Linked DNA regions of Homo sapiens: region 1 is linked to region 2. Evidence: fine-mapped expression QTL. Tissue or cell type: iPS cells. Region 2 holds a variant in brackets; the other region holds the start of a gene. All regions are shown on one strand. Distances are from middle to middle.

What was found. PIP is the estimated chance that this variant, and not a neighbour inherited with it, causes the effect.
Region 1: SENP5 starts here. The variant in region 2 is fine-mapped to the expression of SENP5 in iPS cells (HipSci, PIP 0.93).

The regions. Positions count from the first base shown.
Region 1 is chr3:196,864,859-196,871,661 of GRCh38, forward strand. It overlaps SENP5 (SUMO specific peptidase 5), which reads left to right and starts at 3,062. Exons shown (of 10, transcript NM_152699.5): 1 at 3,062-3,215. RefSeq lists a silencer at 2,839-3,418 and an enhancer at 4,070-4,571.
Region 2 is chr3:196,905,254-196,910,253 of GRCh38, forward strand. All of the region lies in intron 6 of SENP5 (SUMO specific peptidase 5), which reads left to right. Among named protein-coding and RNA genes, the nearest start is that of NCBP2-AS1, 32 kb to the right of the region's middle. The variant TAAAA/T (reference allele first, on the strand shown) is at 2,640.

The DNA of each region.
Region 1 (6,803 bases), 39 kb before region 2:
ACCACACCCAGCTAATTTTTGTGTTTTTAGTAGAGACAGGGTTTCACCATGTTGGCCAGGCTGGTCTCAAACTCCTGACCTAAGGTGATCTGCTCCACTCGGCCTCCCAAAGTGCTGGGATTACAGGCGTGATCCACTGTGCCCGGCCTGGAGATTTCTTAAATAACTTAAAACAGAACTACCATTTGATCCAGCAATCCCATTACTGGGTATACATCCAAAAGAAAATAAATTATCCTACCAAAAAAACACATGCATTTGTATGTTCATTGCAGCACTGTTCACAATAGCAATGACATGGAGTCAACCTCGGTGCCCATCGATGGTGGACTGGATAAAGAAAATGTACAAACACGCTATGGAATACTTCACAGCCATAAAAAGTATGAAGTCATGTCTTTTGCTGAAATATGAATGTAGCTTGAGGCTGTTATCCTAAGTGAAATAATGCAGGAACAAAAATCCAAATGCTACATGCTCTCAGTTATAAGTAGAAGCTAAATAATGAGTATTCGTGGATATAAGGATGGTAACAACAGGCCAGATGCAGTGGCTCACGCCTGTAATCCCAGCACTTTGGAAGGCTGAGATGGGTGGATCACGAGGTCAGGGGTTTGAGACCAGCCTGGCCAACATGGTGAAACTCTATCTCTTCTAAAAATACAAAAATTAGCTGGGTGTGGTGGCGGTCACCTGTAATACCAGCTACTTGGGAGGCTGAGGCAGAATCACTTGAACCTGGGAGGCAGAGGTTGCAGTGAGCCGAGATTGCGCCATTGTACTCCAGCCTGGGCAACAAGGGCGAAGCTTGGCCTCAAAAAAAAAAAACAAACAACAACAACAAAAAAAAACAAAACCTGAAAATCTAATATTTAAAATTAAGAACTCAATGTATAGATTTAACAGCAGATTGGAGATTATAGAAGATAGACTCAATAACCTGAAAAACAGAAAACCTTCAAACTGAATAATTGAAAAAAAAATTGACATCACAAAGTGTAAAAGACACGGTGAACAAGATCAAATAATCTTACATATGGGCTGGGTGCCGTGGCTCATGCCTGTAATCCCAGCACTTTGGGAGGCTGAGGCAGGTGGATCACCGGAGGTCAGGAGTTGAAGACCGGCCTGACCAACATGGTGAAACCCTATCTCTACTAAAAATACAAAAATTAGCCGGGCGTGGTGGTGGGCGCTTGTAATTCTGGCTACTCGATAATAATACTATTATAATAGTATTATCTACCTCAGTAGATAATACTGCTGAGGCAGGATTATCGCTTGAACCCGGGAGGCAGAGGCAGAGGTTGCAGTGAGACGAGATTGCGCCACTGCACTCCAGCTTGAGCAAAAAGAGTGAAACTCTGTCTCAATAATAATAATAATAATCTTACATATGTAATTGGTGTCTCGGAGAACAGGCATAGAGAATGCAGCAAAAACCATATCTGAAGAGATAATGATTGAGAATTTCTCAAAACTGATGCAAGACATCTACCCACAAATCAGAGAAACTCAATGATATCCAAGACAGATAAATACAAAGAAAACAAAGATAGGGCACAAAATAAATGGCTAAAAATCACTAACAGGCTGGGTGCGGTGGCTCACGCCTGTAATCCCAGCACTTTGGGGGGCTGAGGCGGGCAGATCACGAGGTCAGGAGATCGAGATTATCCTGGCTAACTTGGTGAAACCCGGTCTCTACTAAAGAAATACAAAAAAAATTAGCCAAGCGTGGTGGTGGACGCCTGTAGTCCCAGCTACTCAGGAGGCTGAGGCAGGAGAATGGCGTGAACCCGGGAGGCAGAGCTTGCAGTGAGCCGAGATGGCGCCACTGCACTGCAGCCTGGGCGACAGAGCGACACTCCTCTAAAAAAAAAAAAAAAATCACTGACAAAGAGAAACTGTTAAAAAGAAGTGAGAGGGCCTGGTGTGGTGGTTCACGCCTGTAATTCGAGCACTGTGGGAGGCCCAGGTGGGAGGATCACTTGAGCTCAGGGGTTCAAGACCAGCCTGGGCAACATAGGGAGATGTCATCGCTACAAAAATAATGATAGTAATAGTAATAAAAAATTAGCCGGGCGTGGTGCAGGAGCCTGTGGTCGCAGGTACCCTGGAAGATGAGGTGGGAGGATCGCTTGAGCCCAGGAGGCAGAGGTTACAGCGAGCCTAGGGTGTGCCACGGCACTCCGGCTTGGGCGAGACAGCAAGACCCTGTTTGGAAAAAAAAAAAAAAGAAAAGAAAAAAGAAAAAAAAATCAACAGTAATTGCAGCCATTGCTTAGAACTAAGACTAAACAAAGCTTTTGTTTGGAAAGGAGTACTTTTTCATTAACATTGTTTAGAATTTTCTGACACATGATGATAATTAAAAGCAAACCATCCTGCAGTTGGCTTCGGTATTGTTTTTATCTTCTCCACCATCAATGCATATCCTTACTGCCTACACAGGCTCTCAGCAACGCACTGTTGGTTTTCCATTGCAGTCACCTCCACTTTATTCTTCCAGATCGAGTATGTTCAAAACTGAACTCATCTTCCGCCATAAATCTGCTATTATTATGTTTTTGCCTGTCAGGACATCGGCTTATAATTTTGGAAAGCATTCACAGTTGGGGCGGGTAAGACATAGATAAAGAGGCCAATCACAATACCAGGGGTAAGATCAATAGGAAAACCAGAGAGCGGACGCCTGGGCCAGGCCTCACAACGTCCAGAGCTGGAATGGGTCTTTTGCTTTCGGCGCAGGGGTGACGGGATCAGCGGAGGGTAGGGGTGTACACTAGCTGCGGTCTGATTTAGCCCTTTTAGGTTAAAAGCTGGAGAAGGGGCTGAAGTCTCAAACGCGCTTAGCAGCTCCTGAACGCGGTTCCCATCCCAGCGCGTTCTGAGGGAGGCCGGGGCTAAGGACGCGGTGACGGGCGGGGGCGGGGCGGCCCCGGGTCGGGAGGCGGGGCGGGAGCGCCGGAAGCGGGCGGTGCCAGGCCCAGCCTCGCAGGCGGAAGGGCGCGGAGGAGGTGACGCGATAGGCCAGCGCCGGCGTCGCGGCAGCCGCTTCAGAGGAAGCTCGGCGGCTGTGGCCGCGGCGAACAGGCCGGACGCCTCGTCGCTGGCGGGGCTTCCCTTGGAGCTGACGAAGGCGGGGTCCGCGGTCCAGGCTGCTGCCGCGACGGGGCCGGCGGCGGGGCAGCTGCCAGGAACGAGGGTAGCAGGTAAGCGGGGACGCGGGCAGACGAGTGACGGACTCAGCGATCGCCTGGCGGGGCTGGCTGGGGCCATTCCCGCGCCGGTGCGCCACCTCAGCGCCCGGTCCGGAGGCCTCGAGCCGCCCTCCCCCGCCCGAGCTGGAGGCCGCCGTCCGTCTCGGCCACAGCCTCCCTTTCCGGGGGAGGCGAGCGAGCTCGTCCCGAGGGGCCGCTGCCCTGCGCTCTCGCTCCAGCCGGGCTGTGCGTCGCAGGCACCGGGAAGCTGGCGCCCCCCAGCTCCTCCTGAAGCCGGGAAAGCTCTGAGAGGAGGAGCCGCTGTCACAGGCCTCCAGCTCCGGCCGCCGTGGAAGTCCGGGGTTTTTATTTGCTTAGACCGCTCTGCCTCCTTCCGGCCTTCGTTTCTTTCCTCGCGCTCCCCGGGACCCTTTTCCAGAGAGCCCGGTTGGGCATGAGCGCGGTGGGAGACGTCTTTTCCCTTCGGTCTGCTCTGAGCGGTATCAGCCTCCGCTCTACGCCCTGTGGCCACTCTGTCGGGGTGGAGGGATGCGGAGAGGATGTGGGAGTTTTGGACTTAGAGCGAGAATAGCCGAGGTGAAATCCTACCCTGCTCTCTGGTAGTGTTTTTCATCTCATGCTAGATAGACATTTCGACCTTTTTCACCGCAGGTAAAGTGGGACTTTCTTCTACCAATGTAAATTATAATGTTTGGAGAATTAAATGAAGAAAGCAGACGTTAGTTATGAAATGTTTTGAGAATCTGGTTAAATTTAATTTAAGAATATCCAGGACACTTCATGATAGGTTCCTACTTATGTTTTTTTTTTGCATTTTGCCCGGAATAACTAAGCTTGGTATGGAAAAGGTTGCCTAGAGATGCCAGGCGCTCGTGTGGTCAGAGCCTAACTGCAGTCTCTGTTTTGGGTGGGCAGCATCAGGAAGAAACCAGACTCTCTCCTAGCCATCCACATGTCTCACGCTTATTGATGGCATATTATTGGTATATGAGGGATGGCTTATATCAGTTTTGATCTTTACTCAAGATAGCTTTTTCCCAGTGCATCTTTTCTAGGAGAAAAGCTTGGTATGTAGAGGAGGGTGCTGGGGAGGGGGGCTTCATTTACACCTGGGCTCACAATTTTTTTTTGGAGGGGGGACAGGGTCTCACTCTGACACCCAGCCTGGAGTGCAGTGGCGCGATCTTTTCAGCTCACTGCAACCTCCTCCTCCCAGGTTCAAGCGATTCTCCTGCCTCAGCCTCCAGAGTAGCTGGGATTACAGGTGCCCGCCATCGCGCCCGGCTAATTTTTGTATTTTTAGTAGACATGGGGTTTCACCATGTTGGCCAGGCTGGTCTCGACCTCCTGACCTCAAGTGATCTACCTGCTTCCGCCTCTCAAAAGTGCTGGGATCAGCCGGGCGCGGTGGTTGACGCCTGTAATCCCAGCACTTTGGGAGGCCGAGGCGGGCAGATCACCTGAGGTCGGGAGTTCGAGATCAGCCTAACCAACATGGTGAAACCCCATCTCTACTAAAAATACAAAATTAGCCAGGCGTGGTGGCGCATGCCTGTAATCCCAGCTACTCGGAAGGCTGAGGCAGGAGACTAGCTTGAACCCGGGAGGCGAGGTTGTGGTGAGCTGAGATAGTGCCATTACACTCCAGCCTGGGCAACAAGAGCAAAACTCCGTCTCAAAAAAAAAAAAAAAAAAAAAAAAAGGTGCTGGGATTACAGGAGTGAGTCACTGCGCCTGGGCTATATTACTTTCTAAATCAGCCTTTTTTTTTTTTTTTGGTAGGCCATTATGTGAATCCTTCAAAAATCATAGAAAAATTGAAATTTAACAATATTTTGCTTTTATTCTAGCTTGTCATAAACCCAGTGCTCTATACACAGGCCTGCCTTTCTGCCTCCTTCATCCTGGCATGCATGGCCATTTACTTTGTGTTATTAGCCAGCTTCCTATGGAGCTCAGTTTGAGAACGGGGTTCTGTGCTTCTCTAGTTGCCAAACATCTGATTGAAGTAGATCACCTTGGCATTTGCGATATTAAGCATGTCTTTGCGAATTTTTAGTTCCTTTTTCTTTTCTTGGTTAGATTGTACTCTGTCACTGATTTAAAGAATTTGGTAGACGCTCAGAAAGGGTCAACTGGTAAGGTGGTCACAGTGCTTTACATGTATTTTTCTTACCTATTATGGTGAAACCCTTGTGACTTTTTTTGGGCGTGGGTAATATTTTCAAAATTAAGGTAAATAGGCCATCAGGCTGCGTTGAACTTTCTCTTTTAGGGAAATATATTCATTCTCCAATTATTCTTTGGTAGCCTTCTTATTGCTTTAGCAATTCCTACTCTATTATTAGTAGAGCCGGAAATGGACCCTACATCACAGATTCTCCAAATATACTAAATTATTTTTTCTCTAAAATGATCATGTTTATAGCATGTTGATTTTCTTTTTTTTTCTTTTGAGACAGAGTTTCACTCTTGTGCAGGCTGGAGGGCAACAGCTTGATCTCTGCTCACTGCAACTTCCGCCTCCCGGGTTCAAGTGATTGTCCTGTCTCAGCCTCCCAAGTAGCTGGGATTACAAGCGCCCACCACCACGCCCGGCTAATTTTTGTATTTTTAGTAGAGATGGGGTTTCACCATGTTGGCCAGGCTGGTCTTGAACTCCTGACCTCAAGTGATCTCTCCGTCTCAGCCTCCCAAAGCGCGGGGATTACAGGTGTGAGCCACTGTATCCGGTCAGCAGCATGTTGATTTTCTACAACCAGATGACAAAGGATATCCTAAAGTCAGTGATTTAAAAAGTCATGTTGGCTTGGTGCGGTGGCTCATGCCTGTAATCCCAGCACTTTGGGAGGCCGAGGCGGGTGGATCACGAGTCAGGAGTTAGAGAACAGCCTGGCCAACATGGTGAAACTCCGTCTGTACTGAAAATACAAAAAAATTAGCTGGGCATGGTGGCGGGCGCCTATAATCCCAGCTACTCGGGAGGCTGAGGCAGGAGAATCGTTTGAACCCATGAGGTAGAGGTTGCAGTGAGCCGAGGTTGCACCATTGCATTCCAGCTTTGGCAACAGGGTGAGACTCTGTCTCAGAAAAAAAAACAAAAAACAAGTGATGGTAACACATAGGTTGTCTAATACATTCAGAGTCTAGAGAGACCTGGTATGTATCTGAGAAACCAAATAGCTGAATCTCTAAAATTTTATTTTTGTGTCTGGAATACCTTAATTCTGAAGTTTTAGTTGTTGTTGAATTTCACATTCTGACAGGAGACAAGTAGAGGTACATGTGAAGGGTTAGTATGAACCCAGGGTTACAGTTTCAATCTAAACTGATACTGCAGAGTTAACATTGAAACAAAGCAGCTCTAGGGAGCTGGCAAAAATTGAAGGTTAGAAGTCACTTGCTGGCTCTTGAGGCAGTCTTCTGACTCTGAAACTACTTGAGACTAAAATTTTCAAGAATTTTTTAACTTAATTTTGTAAAGATATAATTTACGGCCTGGTGCAGTGGCTCATGCCTGTAATCCCAGCACTTAGGGAGGCCGAGGTGGGTTGATCACCTGAGGTCAGGAGTTTGAGA
Region 2 (5,000 bases):
CTTTGCTGTCACACCACAACAGTAGTCAGCACAGAAGACTTCTGTGACCAAAGCAAGCAAGCAAGCAGTTCTGCAGCGACCACTGGCTGGATGCCCTCTAATTCAATTCCGACCTGTCTACCTGGAGACAGTGCCACGTCCCATAGTTTGAGGGCTCATGCCTCAAGAGTGCCCCCCACCCACTTCAGACACCAGTTGCAAGTCCAGGCTTCTGAAACTTCTGACCAACAGACTTCAAGTGAGGGTTCCCATGCCGCCCTCCTTGAATTTGATTAATTTGCCGGAGCGGTTCACAGAATTCTGGGAAGTTCTTACCTACATTTAGCAGTTTATTATATAGGATATTACAAAGGATTCAGATGAAGAGATGCATGGGAAGAGATGTAGGGGAGTGGGCACAGGGATTCTCTAGGACCTCCACAGGCACATCACCCTCCAGGAACCTCCACATATTTAGTATCCAGAAGCTCTCCCAGTGCAGTCAGTTTTTATGGAGGCTTCATTACATAGGCGATTGACTAAACCAGTGACCATTGGTTAACCTTTAGCTTCTCTTCTCTCCCTGGTGGTTGGGGGGTTGGGTGGGGCTGAAAGTCACAATCCTCTAATTCTGCCTTGCTCTTATCCTAAAGCCACCTAGCAGCTGCCAGCCATCAGTTAATCATCAACATACAAAAAGACATCACTTTGGGCCTGGGTCATGTCCCCGTAATCCCAGCACTTTGGAAGTCTGAGGCAGGCAGATCACTTGAGGTCAGGAGTTCAAGATCAGCCTGGCCAACATGGTGGAACCCTGTCTCTACTGAAAATACAAAAATTAGCTGGGTATGGTGGCATGTGCCTGTAGTCCCAGCTACTTGGGAGGCTGAGACAGGAGAATCGTTTGAACCCAGGAGGTGGAGGTTGCTGTGAGCCGAGATTGCACCACTGCACTCCAGCCTGGGTGACAGAGCAAGACTTTCTAAAAAAAAAGAAAAAAAGACATCAGAAATTCCAAGGACTTTAGGGAGTTGTATGCCAGGAAATGAGGTCAAAGACCAAATTTATTATTTTACAGTATCATAGTGCCAGACATTATAGTAAATCAAGAAATAAAGAGGTAAGTAAAACAATATTAGAGACAGTTTTTGCTTTCACAAAGTCTGCAGTCTAGTGGTGGAGACAGCACCTACCACAGTTTGTATTTATATTTTTGGTGGTGTAATTATTTGTTTAGTGGGTACAAAAGAAAAGTACTACAGGAGTGTATTGGAATGCAGGTTTGGTTAACCTAGCCTGAGGGTAAGGGAATGTTTCTCATAGGAAGTAATATTTAAGCAGAAATATCAAAGATGAATACAAGTTAACTAGGTAAATGGAGAATAGGGGTATGTGAAACATAGGCAGAAGGAATAAGTATCTGGTAGAAGAATGGGAAAAGGCTAGTGTAGCTGAAATGCAGAGAGTTAAGAAGACAGTGGCATGAAGTGTACCTGATCCACAGATCAGGGCCTTGAGGTTTGTATTTTGGATTTTATCCTAAATGTAATAGGAAACCATTGAATGGTTTTTAGTGACATTATCCACTTTGTAGTCTTTGTTCTAACAGTACTGAAGAAGATGGATGGGTATGGGAGCAAAGTTGATGTGGGCAGAACAGGAGACCATTTCAGATTCATGGTACTTTGAAGTAGAATGATAGCAGGAGAGATGGAAGATGAGTGTGATGTAGGAAGTAAAATTAACAGGATTTGGTGATAAGTTGGTTATGGAGATGAAGGACAAGGAAGTGTGAAAGATGACTTCCAAGTATGTGACTTGTATGACTGGACGGCCTATGGTTGTATTTACATTAGAAAAATGTAGGACAACTAGTAGAGGATTGTTCAAATTTAAAATGTACAGTCATATAATTGGATGCTACTTAAGCAGGAAAAGCTGTGTAGATAATGAACGATGGGCCGGGCACAGTGGCTCACATCAGTAATCCCAGCACTTTGAGGGGCCGAGGCAGGCGGATCACGAGGTCAGGAGATAGAGACCATCCTGGCTAACACGGTGAAACCCCATCTCTATTAAAAATACAAAAAAATTAGCCGGGCGTGGTGACGGATGCCTGTAGTCCCACTTACTCAGGAGACTGAACCCAGGAGGCGGAGCTTGCAGTGAGCCAAGATCGCACCACTGCACTCCAGCCTGGGCGACAGAGAGACTCCGTCTCAAAAAAAAAAAAAAAAGATAATGGAAGATGCTTATATTCCATTTGGGGTGGGAAAAATTACAAGCAGTGTGGGCAAAAAATATACATTCATGGAAAAGTATCTGAATGATAAACATGAGAGTGAAAGAATAAAGTCAAATATGTGAGTTGTTTCATTAAATAATAAACTAAATTATTCCTTCCTCTAGATCAGGGGTGTCCAATCTTTTGGCTTCCCTGAGCCTCACTGGAAGAAGAAGAGTTGTCTTGGGCCACACATAAAATACACCAACACTAACAATAGCTGATGAGCTAAAACAAAAAAAATTGCAAAAAAGATCTCATAAAAGAAAGTCTACAAATTTGTGTTCGGCTGCATTCAGAGCCGTCCTGGGCTGCATGCTGCCCGTGGGCTGTGGACTGGACAAGCTTGCTGTAGATCCTCTGAGATTGGGTTAAG[TAAAA/T]AAAAAAAAAACCCAGGTTTATGCTGAATATAAGAAGTATACATAAAATAATATGAAAAAGAAAGGTTGAAAATGAAGTGACATTTAAAGAGGCTGGGCGCTGTGTCTCACATCTGCAGTCTGAACACTTTGGGAGGCCTAAAATTACTGTAGATGGGAGGATTGCTTGAGCCCAAGAGTTTCAAATCAGCCTAGGCAACCAAGCGAGACCCCGTTTCTATAAAAAATTTAAAAAACTTAGCTGGCCATGGTGGCAGCCTGTGGTCCCAGTTATCCAGAAGGCTGCGGTGGGAGGATCACTTGAGCCTGGGAGGTCGAGGCTGCAGTGAACCCTGATCACGCCACTGCACTCCTGCCTGGGTGACAGACTGAGACCTTGTCTCAATTTAAAACAAATAAAAAAGGCAACTACAGGAAAGTTAAACAACCTGTTCCTGAATAACTCCTGGGTAAATAAAGAAATTAAGGCAGAAATCAAGAAGTTCTTTGAAACCAATGAGAACAGAGAGACAATGTACCAGAATCTCTGGGACACAGCTAAAGCAGTGTTAAGAGGGAAGTTTATAGCACTAAATGCCCACATCGAAAAGCTGGAAAGATCTCAGATCAACATCCTGACATCACAATTAAAAGAACTAGAGAAGCGGCTGGGCGTGGTGACTCATGCCTGTAATCCCAGCACTTTGGGAGGCTGAGGCGGGTAGATCACCTGAGGTCAGGAGTTTGAGATGAGCCTGACCAACATGGAGAAACCCCATCTCTACTAAAAATACAAAATTGGCTGGGTGTGGTGGCACATGCCTGTAATCCCAGCTACTTGGGAGGCCGAGGTAGGAGAATCACTTGAACCCGGGAGGTGGAGGTTGTGGTGAGCTGAGATTGCGCCATTGCACTCCAGCCTGGGCAAGAAGAGTGAAACTCTGTCTCAAAACAAACAAACAAAAACAACAACAAGGAAATAGAGAAGCAAGAGCAAACAAATCCAAAAGCTAGCAGAAAACAAGAAATAACTAAGATCAGAGCAGAACTGAAGGAGATAGAAACACAAAAAAACCCTTCAAAAAATCAGTGAATCCAGGAGCTGGATTTTTTGAAAAAATTAACAAAAAATACCTCTAGCTAAACTAAAGAAGAAAAGAGAGAAGAATCAAATAGACACAATAAAAAATGATAAAGGGGATATCACCATTGACCCCACAGAAATATACAAATTACTATCAGAGAATACTATAAAGACCTCTACACAAATAAACTAGAAAATCTAGAAGAAACGGATAAATTCCTGGACACATACACCTTCCCAAGACTAAATCAGGAAGAAGTGGAATGTCTGAATAGACCAATAACAAATTCTGAAATTGAGGCAGTAATTAATAGCCTACCAACCACAAAAAGCCCAGGACCAGATGGATTCACAGCCAAATTCTACCAGAGGTACAAAGAGGAGCTGATACCATTCCTTCTGAAACTATTTCATAACAATTGAAAAGGAGGAACTCCTCCCTAGCTCATTTTATGAGGCCGGCATCATCCTGATACCAAAACCTGGCAGAGACACAAAAAAAGAAAATTTCAGGCCAATATCCCTGATGAACATCGGTGCGAAAAATTCTCAATAAAATGCTGGCAAACCAAATCCAGCAGCACATCAAAAAGCTTATCCACCATGATCAAGTTGGCTTCATCCCTGGGATGCAAGGCTGATTCAACATATGCAAATCAGTAAACATAATCCGTCATATAAACAGAACCAGTGACGAAAACCACATGATTATTTCAGTAGATGCAGAAAAGACCTTCGATAAAATTCAGCATCCCTTCATTTAAAAACTCTCAATAAACTAGGTATTCATCAAACATATCTCAATAATAAGAGCTATTTATGACAAACCCATAGCCAATATCAGTGGGCAAAAGCTGGAAACATTCCCTTTGAAAACTGGCACAAGACAAGGATGCCCTCTCCCATCACTTCTATTCAACATAATATTGGAAGTTCTGGCCAGGGCAATCAGGCAAGAGAAAGAAATACAGGGTATTCAGATAGAAAGAGAGGAAGTCAAATTGTCTCTTGCAGATGGCATGATTCTATATTTAGAAAATGCCATCGTCTCAGCCCCAAAACCCCTTACGTTGATAAGAAACTTTAGCAAAGTCTCAGGATACAAAATCAATGTGCAGAAATCACAAGCATTCCTATACGCCAGCAATGGACAAGCAGAGAGCCAAATCATGAATGAACCCCCATTCACAATTGCTACAAAGAGAATAAAATACCTAGGAATACAGTTTATAAGGGATGTGAAGGACCTCTTCAAGGAGAACTACAAACCACTGCTCAAGGAAGTAAGAGAGGA